Linked DNA regions of Homo sapiens: region 2 is linked to region 1. Evidence: fine-mapped expression QTL. A gene starts in region 1. The other region holds a variant in brackets. All regions are shown on one strand. Distances are from middle to middle. Region 1 holds the start of CFAP95 (cilia and flagella associated protein 95). Region 2 overlaps CFAP95 (cilia and flagella associated protein 95).

The links. PIP is the estimated chance that this variant, and not a neighbour inherited with it, causes the effect. A credible set is the group of variants that fine-mapping cannot tell apart.
Region 2: its variant is the best candidate, but not a certain one, in a credible set for the expression of CFAP95 in testis (GTEx, PIP 0.50).

What each region holds. Positions count from the first base shown.
Region 1 is chr9:69,818,226-69,822,619 of GRCh38, forward strand. CFAP95 (cilia and flagella associated protein 95) reads left to right here and starts at 2,592. Exons shown (of 6, transcript NM_001010940.3): 1 at 2,592-2,806. The coding sequence starts at 2,655. It overlaps CFAP95-DT (CFAP95 divergent transcript), which reads right to left and starts at 2,514. Exons shown (of 2, transcript NR_038833.1): 1 at 2,425-2,514; 2 at 1,180-2,042. RefSeq lists a silencer at 2,508-2,567.
Region 2 is chr9:69,842,827-69,847,220 of GRCh38, forward strand. It overlaps CFAP95 (cilia and flagella associated protein 95), which reads left to right. Exons shown (of 6, transcript NM_001010940.3): 2 at 1,691-1,799. Among named protein-coding and RNA genes, the nearest start is that of CFAP95, 24 kb to the left of the region's middle. The variant G/T (reference allele first, on the strand shown) is at 1,825.

The DNA.
Region 1 (4,394 bases):
AGCTAATCGGGAGGCTGAGGCAGGAGAATGGCGTGAACCTGGGAGGCGGAGCTTGTAGTGAGCTGAGATCGTGCCACTGCACCCCAGCCTGGGTGACAGAGTGAGACTCCATCTCAAAAAAAAAAAAAAACAAAACAAAAAAAAAACAAAAAAACCCTCTGCAATAAGTGCTGTTCTATTCCTATTTTATTGATAAAGAATCAAGAAACCAAAATTCTACAGTATGTATTGGTGTATACAAAGAGAATGGAATGCACATAAACTCGAGGATATCACAGAATTAGTATCCTAAATCCTAGGACAAGGATGTTGAAAAGTATTTAGTAGACACAGAAGACAATGAAGTTTATAAATTTGATACAAACAGGAAAGTGAGTATAACAAAAAGCATATTCACAAACTCTAATAGGTGGTTGGCTTGGCTTAAGGAACTCTAAAATAACCAGCTATGTTTGTTTTGCATGTTTTCTTAACTTATTGCTCCTTGGTGTGCTGAAAAGCTTTTAAATCTCTGTGGTACTTATGCACTGTGGAAAGAGCTTGGCCTTGGGCAGCTTCCATCTTTGAGAGAAATTGTCTGCAGAGATCTGACATATTGGTTTCACATATATTATGTTACCGCCACTCTAAACGTAAGTAAAATGAACACATGAACAGATGACAGCAATGATGATAATATTTTTGGAACAACAGCAATATTCTGTGCTTTGATTGGACAGAATTGAGCTTGACATGGATCATATTTCCCCTTTTAAAGTTAACTTATGTTTTTCTTTTCATTCTGCCTAGAAGAAAGCAGCTAAAATAGCAGTCAGCACTCTCCTAGCATTTGGCTGGTGATGGTGGACTGTTTATTTGGTTTTAAGAAATATATTTTAACTGTGGCTGTCAGTAAAATAGAGACCTTAGCATACCACAGGCACCCACACTATGAACCACAGACCACGGAAAAGCACTTAGTAGTTATATGTAATCAAATTTGTGCCATCTGATACAGAAGAGTGCCTCACTATTTATGGGAGCACTATAACACATCTTTTATAAACCGAGAATCTATTTGTAGTGTGAATGGTCTCTTACTCTGTTTTAAAGTTTGATTTTTTTGTGTAGATGTGGTCTTCCTCAAGTAAGACACTTTTGGAAAGTAAACCTAAGGTAATCAAACATAATGAACATTCATTCATTCATTCAACAATGAAGATATCTGTATTAAGGACTATGCTGGGTAAGTGATTGCAAGGAGGAAGTGCTTTAATGCCCCTCAGGTACTCGACTAAGGCCAGGGAGGAGAGAAGAATTCTGATGTGTTACATATTCTTTTCCTGCAAAGTCAAAAATGAAACAAACGTCTTTTCTTCTGTAACATATCTATCCAATAACTTCTTGAAGGCAATGTTTTCTTCTGTAACACAGCTATCCAATAACTTCAAAAGGCAATCTTTTTAAAATCTCCTTCCCACATATAACACACAGCACAAAAATGTGATGAATTTGTGTTGTCACGAAATATCAAAAATGTCAATGAGGAGAACTTGACAAGTCCCGGGGATCTGAATGCCCGGAGTCCTAAACTGTACCTAGAGTCTTGCAGCGTCATAGCCAGAAGGGACTTGCGATTCTTGTGCCCACTCCACTCTACGGTCCCGTTCCCTCTTTCGTTTTTCAGAGGAAGAAACTAGTGTTCAGAAAGGTAGGGGAAGGATCTGAAACTGGAGCTAGGCTTTTTGATCTTCAAACTTTTTAGGTGATTTGCTGGATGAGTCTGCTCCTCCTCTTTTGCAGGCAGGAAAGCTGTATAGAATGACAAACTTTGGGTTTCAGGGGATGTTCTCTCGTTCTCTTTTAGTTAAACTTATTATAAATAACTCGTAAGCAGAAGGTGTGGTGGCAATGGATGATGGACGGTAAAAAGAACTTCCCCAAAGGCTGGGCGCGGTGGCTCACGCCTGTAATCCCAGCAGTTTGGAAGACCGAGGCGGACGGATCACTTGAGTTCTGGAGTTCGAGACCAGCATGGCCAACATGGTGAAACCCTGTTTCTACTAAAAATACAAAAAATTAGCCGGGTGTGGTGGCGAGACCCTGTAATCCCAGCTACTTGGGAGGCTGAGGCAGGAGAATCGCTTGAACCTGGGAGGCGGAGGTTGCAGTGAGCCAAGATCGTGCCACTGCACTCCAGCCTGCCTGGGCGACAGAGTGAGACTCGGACACACACACACACACACACACACACACACACACACACACAAAAGAACTTCTCTAAAGACAGCCCGAACAGACCCACTCGGGGTTCAGGGAATTTGCTCTTCCCTTGGTCCTTAACTGACCTACCACTCCCCAATAACTGCGCTCAGCCACTCTTAGGATTTGGCGGGTGGACAGGCGAAACTGCGGATCCCAGGATGCAGTTCCCCCCTTCATCACCTGTGTAGCCCGGTCGCTACCCTCACTGCATTCTGGGAAATGTAGTTTCTTATCAGTAACGACAACGTCTAGGAAACGTTTGGCCGTCAGGTTGGAGGGATCCGCCCCTCCACTGGCCCCGCCCCAGGTTGCTTAGGAGATAAGAGACGCCGAATCTTGGTACTTACGTTCCTGCCGGGCAGGACAGGTGCATAGGGAACTCCTCAGAGGTCTGTACCTCGAGGGCTCCCATGGATAGCCTTGACAGATCCTGCCAGGACTGGTGCGACAGGAAGCAACACTGGTTGGAGATCGGACCACCGGACTTGGTGGAGCGCAAGGGCTCCCTGACCCTCCGCTCCCATCACAAGAAATACTCGAAGCCGGTGTTGGTGTATTCCTGGTGAGCGAAGTCCCCTCGCAAGTTCCCGGGTGCTGCGGGGAGGAAAGAGAGGGGAAAGGATGGAACAGGAAAGGAAAGGAGAGTCAGAGAGAGGGGACAGGAGTGGAGACGACAGAGGAAACGGAAAAAAGAATGAGAAAAGTGGGGGAGAAATGTAGAGAAAGAAGGAAATGAGAAGAAAGGTGAGAAAAAGATGAGACGAGAGAGGAATGGGAAGGAGGAAAAGAGAGAAAAGAAAGAAAAGGGAAAGAAATATTTTCAAAGGAGAAATAGAGAGAGTGGGAGAGAGGGTTGGAGCAGAGAGGAGGAAATAGGAGAGCCTTTCAGGGGCAGCTCCCAGCCACACACTGGGCCACGCAGCAGCCAAATCCCCGCCACCTGAGGTTTTAGCTCATTCACACAGAGCGGGTGTGTATAAATAGGGGGTGAAAAGGGGGTGCTGTCAGAGGCCTGGAAATCACATTTCTGACACAGGCACTTACTCATAAAAGGAATTAGAGGCCAGGGGCACAGCAGGAGGGAGATGCCTATTTAGAGGACCAGCCTCCAGGGCTGCCACTTCCTGGGGGTAGGGTGTACATGGAGTGATTTGAACGAGGCCCCTCATATTTTCTAGGCTACATACAAGAACTTTTCTGGCCAGAGACTGCAAACTGGCATCTCCCACTGGTTAAGGCCAACAGACATTGTTTGGCATGAGCTCTGTTTACTTTTTTTTTTTTTCATTTTAATTAGTTGGCCACATTTAAAACTAGGAGATTCACAGTAAATCCAGGGTTGTATCTTTGAAAATTTGAAAGTCTTGGCCAGAGAGGATTTTATTTCTCTGGGGAACTATGAATGTACCAGAGCTGAGCACTGGCTACACCTTAAGATGGGTGTTGTTCTGTCTTTAGGAACTTCCCTCGTGTAAGTTCTTGCTTGGCCCCAAGAAGCATTTGGTTTACTTCTTGTGCTTTAGAACTTGACCTGGAAATTCACTTTCTCTTATTAAATATCACAGTGACCAATAGCAACACTGTGATGTATAACTGGAAGAAAAGTGGAAACTTTTAGGACTTTTCAAATTCTTTCCCTTGAATTAACTTTCCTGGCTCTGCTGTTGATAGTAATTACATTTGGAGTGGTTGGAATATTTGGGAGGGGCGTGAAGAAAAAAAAGAAATGAAAAGAAGTCACAAATCTTGTCTACTTTATGTTTTTGCTTTTGAAAGAAATGAGTGATTTTGACTCTAGCCCTAAGGCTAAGCCCGACTTCATCCCATTCATTCATGTAATATATGCGACCCCTGCAGTTTCTGTCTTGCAAACTTTCTAAAGCCTATTCCCTGCTTTCCAACAAGTTTACCTTTCTGCTTTTACTTCTCAACCCTGAAACTGTCTCTCTTCCTCCTTTGAACTCAGTATGAGAAGTTATACAGATTTGGAATCCAAAACTACACTGGGAAACAGAACATCCTCTTTTAGCCTCATATAGGGCTTACCTCATAGCTCTCAAGCAAAACACTTAGCTCTTCTGTGACTCTGTTACCCCACAGAGATTTGAGTCATACCATAAATCACCACTAGAAGTTATTGTTAAAGAGAA
Region 2 (4,394 bases), 25 kb after region 1:
GGAGAGAAGAGGGCTCAGGTGTGTTTTGCTTGCCGCCCCACCTTGGGCTCCCTTGCTGCTGGGTTCTACTGCAGAGCTCTGCTGTCATGCTCAGAGGTGGGGAGGCAGGAGTGTTAATGGGAATGTAGTGCAGGGGCTGAGCCCTAGTCCAGTGGGGGTGGGGAAGGAAAGAGGATGCCCTTTGGATTCGGTGCCCAACCTAGGTTAAGGGAAGCAATTCTTCTTACCTAGATTTTTACCCACACTTACCATGTTGTAGATTTTTCTTATTTTTGTGTCTCTCTATCTAGACTGCAAGCAACTGAAGGCAGGGACTCCATTAGACTCACTTCCCACTGCATCCCCCACACCTACCAAAGTCCCTGGCATGTAGTAGGAATTTTAAAACATTTGTGGAATAAACAAATGGCTGGATGATTGAATTCTCGGGTACTTGAGTGTCCCCTAAACAATTCTAGCCCTGTATCCCTTAAAGCAAAGTAACTTCTGAGGGTTGCTTAGTCTTAGCATCCTATATTTCACTCAAGAAAGTTCTATTAAAAATAGCTACTTCAGTTGCCAGCCACTTCTCCTACTTTTTCCTTCTCTACCCCCAAATCCTCTTCTTCCTTCTTCCCCCTCCCCTCCCCCTCCCCTCCCCTCCTACTTCTCCTCCTCCTCCTCTTCCTCCTCCTCCCCCCCTCCTCCTCCTCCTCCTCCTCCTCCTCCTCCTCCTCCTCCTCCTCCTCCTCCTTCTTCTTCTTCTTCTTCTTCTTCTTCTTCTTCTTCTTCTTCTTCTTCTTCTTCTTCTTCTTCTTCTTCTTCCTCCTCCTCCTCCTTCTTTCTTCTTCTTTTTTGAGACAGGGTCTTATTCTGTTGCCCAGGCTGGAGTTCAGTGGCACAATCATGGCTGACTGCAGCCTTGACCTCCCTGAGGTGATCCTCCTAGCCCAGCCTCCCGTGTAGCTGGGACTACAGGCACATGCCACCAAGCCCAACTGATTTTTGTATTTTTTGTAGAGATGGGGTCTTGCCATGTTTCCCAGGCTGGTCTTGAAGCTTCTAGGCTCAAGGGATCTGCCTGCCTCCCAAAGTGCTGAGATTACAGGCGTGTGTTACTGTTCCCTGCCTCTTATTATTCTTAATCACTCTTTTAATCAAGATGTTTGGTATATTTTTTCCTTCTTCCATCTACATTTTTAAGAACTGTTTTCTTCTACCTCATGTTTATCAGCTTCCTTTATTGCCTCTTTAGAAGCAGAAGCACAGGTTATAAATCAATATGGGCAAATACTTTGCTGTCTTGTTTTGAAAAAAATTGTAATTAAAATTCATGGTAGAAAGAATTTCTAAAGTGGAAAGTTGCCTTTCCAAGATATTACCATGTCTTATTTTAGAACTTACTGTTGGTAAACTAATCTACATTATTAAATAGGATTCAGTTCATTGGAATCACTGAGTAATTACTGTGTTTGATAAGTATTGTTTGGGTGATATTATTAGTTTTATCACTTATGCTAGGTTGCTTTTAGGAATTAGCCTCAGCATTACTTGAAAAGAGATGGAAAATACTTTATATGTCACAAATCTAATAAATTTATACTTAATACTACAAATATAGAAAATTTTCATTGGATAATTTTTAAAAATCTGAATGCAATACAGAATAAATAAACTACATCTCTTAACGGACTCCTAATTTTTTCTTAAGGCACCGTGACAGAGAAGCTTTTCCCAAAGGTTATGATATAGAGGGTCCTGAGAAAGTTAAAAAACTGTGTAATTCAACATATCGGCGACTGGGAACCGATGAATCCCCAGTAAGTAGTTGCTATTACTTCGTTT[G/T]AAGTCTGAAATCTTTGTCATAGTGAAACATAAAAAGGTAAAGGGAGGAGTGTTTTGTGCAGCACCATCCCTCGTTAACTGTGTTAGTTACTTAGATGACTTAGTCACTGTGTGCTGAAGCAACATTACCTGTAAAATGTGCCTACCTCACAAAGTGATTGGGCGAATTACATGAGATGAAGCAAGTTGAGTATGTGGCATGGTGCCTGGCACATAAAAGTGCCTAGGAAATTGTTCCTGTTGCTATGATGCTGTTGTCACTACAGCAGCAATATCCTGCTAGATGTCTCCTTTCACCTCCACAATAACCCTGCAAAGTAGGTATTAACCATCACTAATTACAGAGGAGGGGAAAGAGGCTCTTAAAGACTAAGCAACTTACTCAAAGTCACACAGCTAGGGCGTGGAAGAGGGAGAGTTTATACCCTGGTCTTTGGTTTCAAGTGTTTTGTGCTTATCTTAAGCTGGTGGAGTTGTGAGTAATTAAAACATGCTATTAACAGTGTCATAATGTTTGTACAATCCAGTTACAAGAAAAATATTTATGGCATAAGTAATTCCTGTTTTAATTGAGGTGAGTGCGTTACTGCTTGGCTACCTAGGTGTCTGTCCAGTCAGCATAAGGCAAGAGCTCAACAACTAGGAGACCCCCAAATTGGGTCCTACAATGTCACGAGCTTTGTGGCTAGCTGAAGACAATTTAGCCTTAGAGGATGGCCTCGGGGCATGAAGAGCTGGTGATTTGATGAGGGTGGTCGTACAGGTGATGAAAAGATTGGGTTTGTGTCACATTCTGCCCCCGCCCCCCAAGGCTGGGCTAGTTTTAGACCAGCATTTGAAATGGGGCAGGTGTAAAAAGACGCATAATTCCACATTGGAAATTGTTCTAGAAGATTCTCCATTCTGCAAGGTAATGAGGACAAATTAGCTTAGCATGGCAGTGCCATTTCCTCCTTTCCTCTTATAGTTGCAGTGGACAGAGAGTAATAAGGATCGCCTGGAGAATGGGGATTTATCATAAAGTGACAGCTGCCTGGATATAGAATGAGCAAACTTGCAGGAACTAACACAGCTCTAAAGCAAGGCATCCCCATCGCCACCCCAACCTCTCTGTGTCACATGCACACACAGAGTCTCTTTGGCATCTCTATTTCTCTCTGCTCAGGTTTACCTCTTGCTCCATAGCCCAGATCTCAGGGGAATCTGATGATTTCCTCAGTTTCCACCCAACCCTCTTCCCTTTGCACCAGGCTGCCTCATGGGTCATCAGCCAGCATGTGGATGGGGCTCTGCAGTGTGATGCCCAACTCAGTCAACATCCACTTGCTCCATTCCCCCACAAACACAGCTTCACCTTGCTTTCTTCAGCATGGGGCTGTGGTCAGGAGAAGAGTAAGCTGGGCAATTCAGGCATTGCTTGACATGCACTTAGAGACTTTGGTCCTTAAAAAACATTTATTTTTGATTTCTATATTAAAGATGTTTTTAAAGAACTTTTGGTCCTTAAAAACATTCATTTTTGATTCCTATATAGAAATGCTCTTGGTTTCTGGGTATTCCTATACCTCATATCGTGGGGGAAGTGAGATGAAGCGGGATATGAGGTATAGGAACCACAAACATTCCCTCCCCAATATTATATGCGTTACAGTGGTCAAGCCTCAGGTTTAATGAGAATGTGTAAATAAATAGTAGTATTTACTGTCTGTATGTCTTTTTGTTGATGGCCATTGAAACCCTGTCCTCCACCTGCCAGATTTGGAATGTGTATTCAATAGAAAAGAAAATAGACTGAGGAATCACTATTTCTGATGGAACTGCTATTCTCTATCTTAATAGCAATTTACATTTTTCCCTATAGACTTTCTGTGTATAAAGCACTGGCTCATCCATCTTGTTTTTCATTCTTCACAACAAAGCTATAAAGCTGTCAAGAAATATATTATTATTTAGTTCTAAACCTAGACTTACAGATCTTAAATGACTCACCCAAGGTCCCAAGTGTAAAGAAAAGGAGGGGATACTGGCGCCAAGCCCCCACACCTTCACATGCCAGGTGTGAGGCTGGATATAGCAAGAGGATGGGCAAGTCCTTCTTCCTGTTGTCACAGAGATTTGGTAAAGGCCTAAAGACACTCTTGATAGTTGGCAGGAACCACATGCCTTAAAGCAAGAATCTGGGCCACCTAGGCAGGACCTGCTAAGAGACTAAATTAGATTAAACCAGTATGAGTAGTTATGTCCTTAAAGACAAGGGACTGAAGAGTTAAAAGAGTATTCATGTAGTTGTGGGTTCTGTGCCTCTCTTTCTCCAGTTGAGAGAGGTTTCAAGGGAACCACTCAGAGAGATTAATATGTATGTCCTGGAATTTAGAGGACACGGGGTCCAGTCACATGCCTAAAAACCTAAATGTGAGAGGTCATGCCTGATATGGCACAGCAGAAAGAGGGAGTGCGGGGCAGGGACAGTAGTGGTCAAGAAGAGACTTGCCTAAGACTTTTATTAAACAAAAGGAAATAACTTGCTGTGGGAGGGAAGGGGCAGTTTGATTAAAAATGAAATTGCTTTA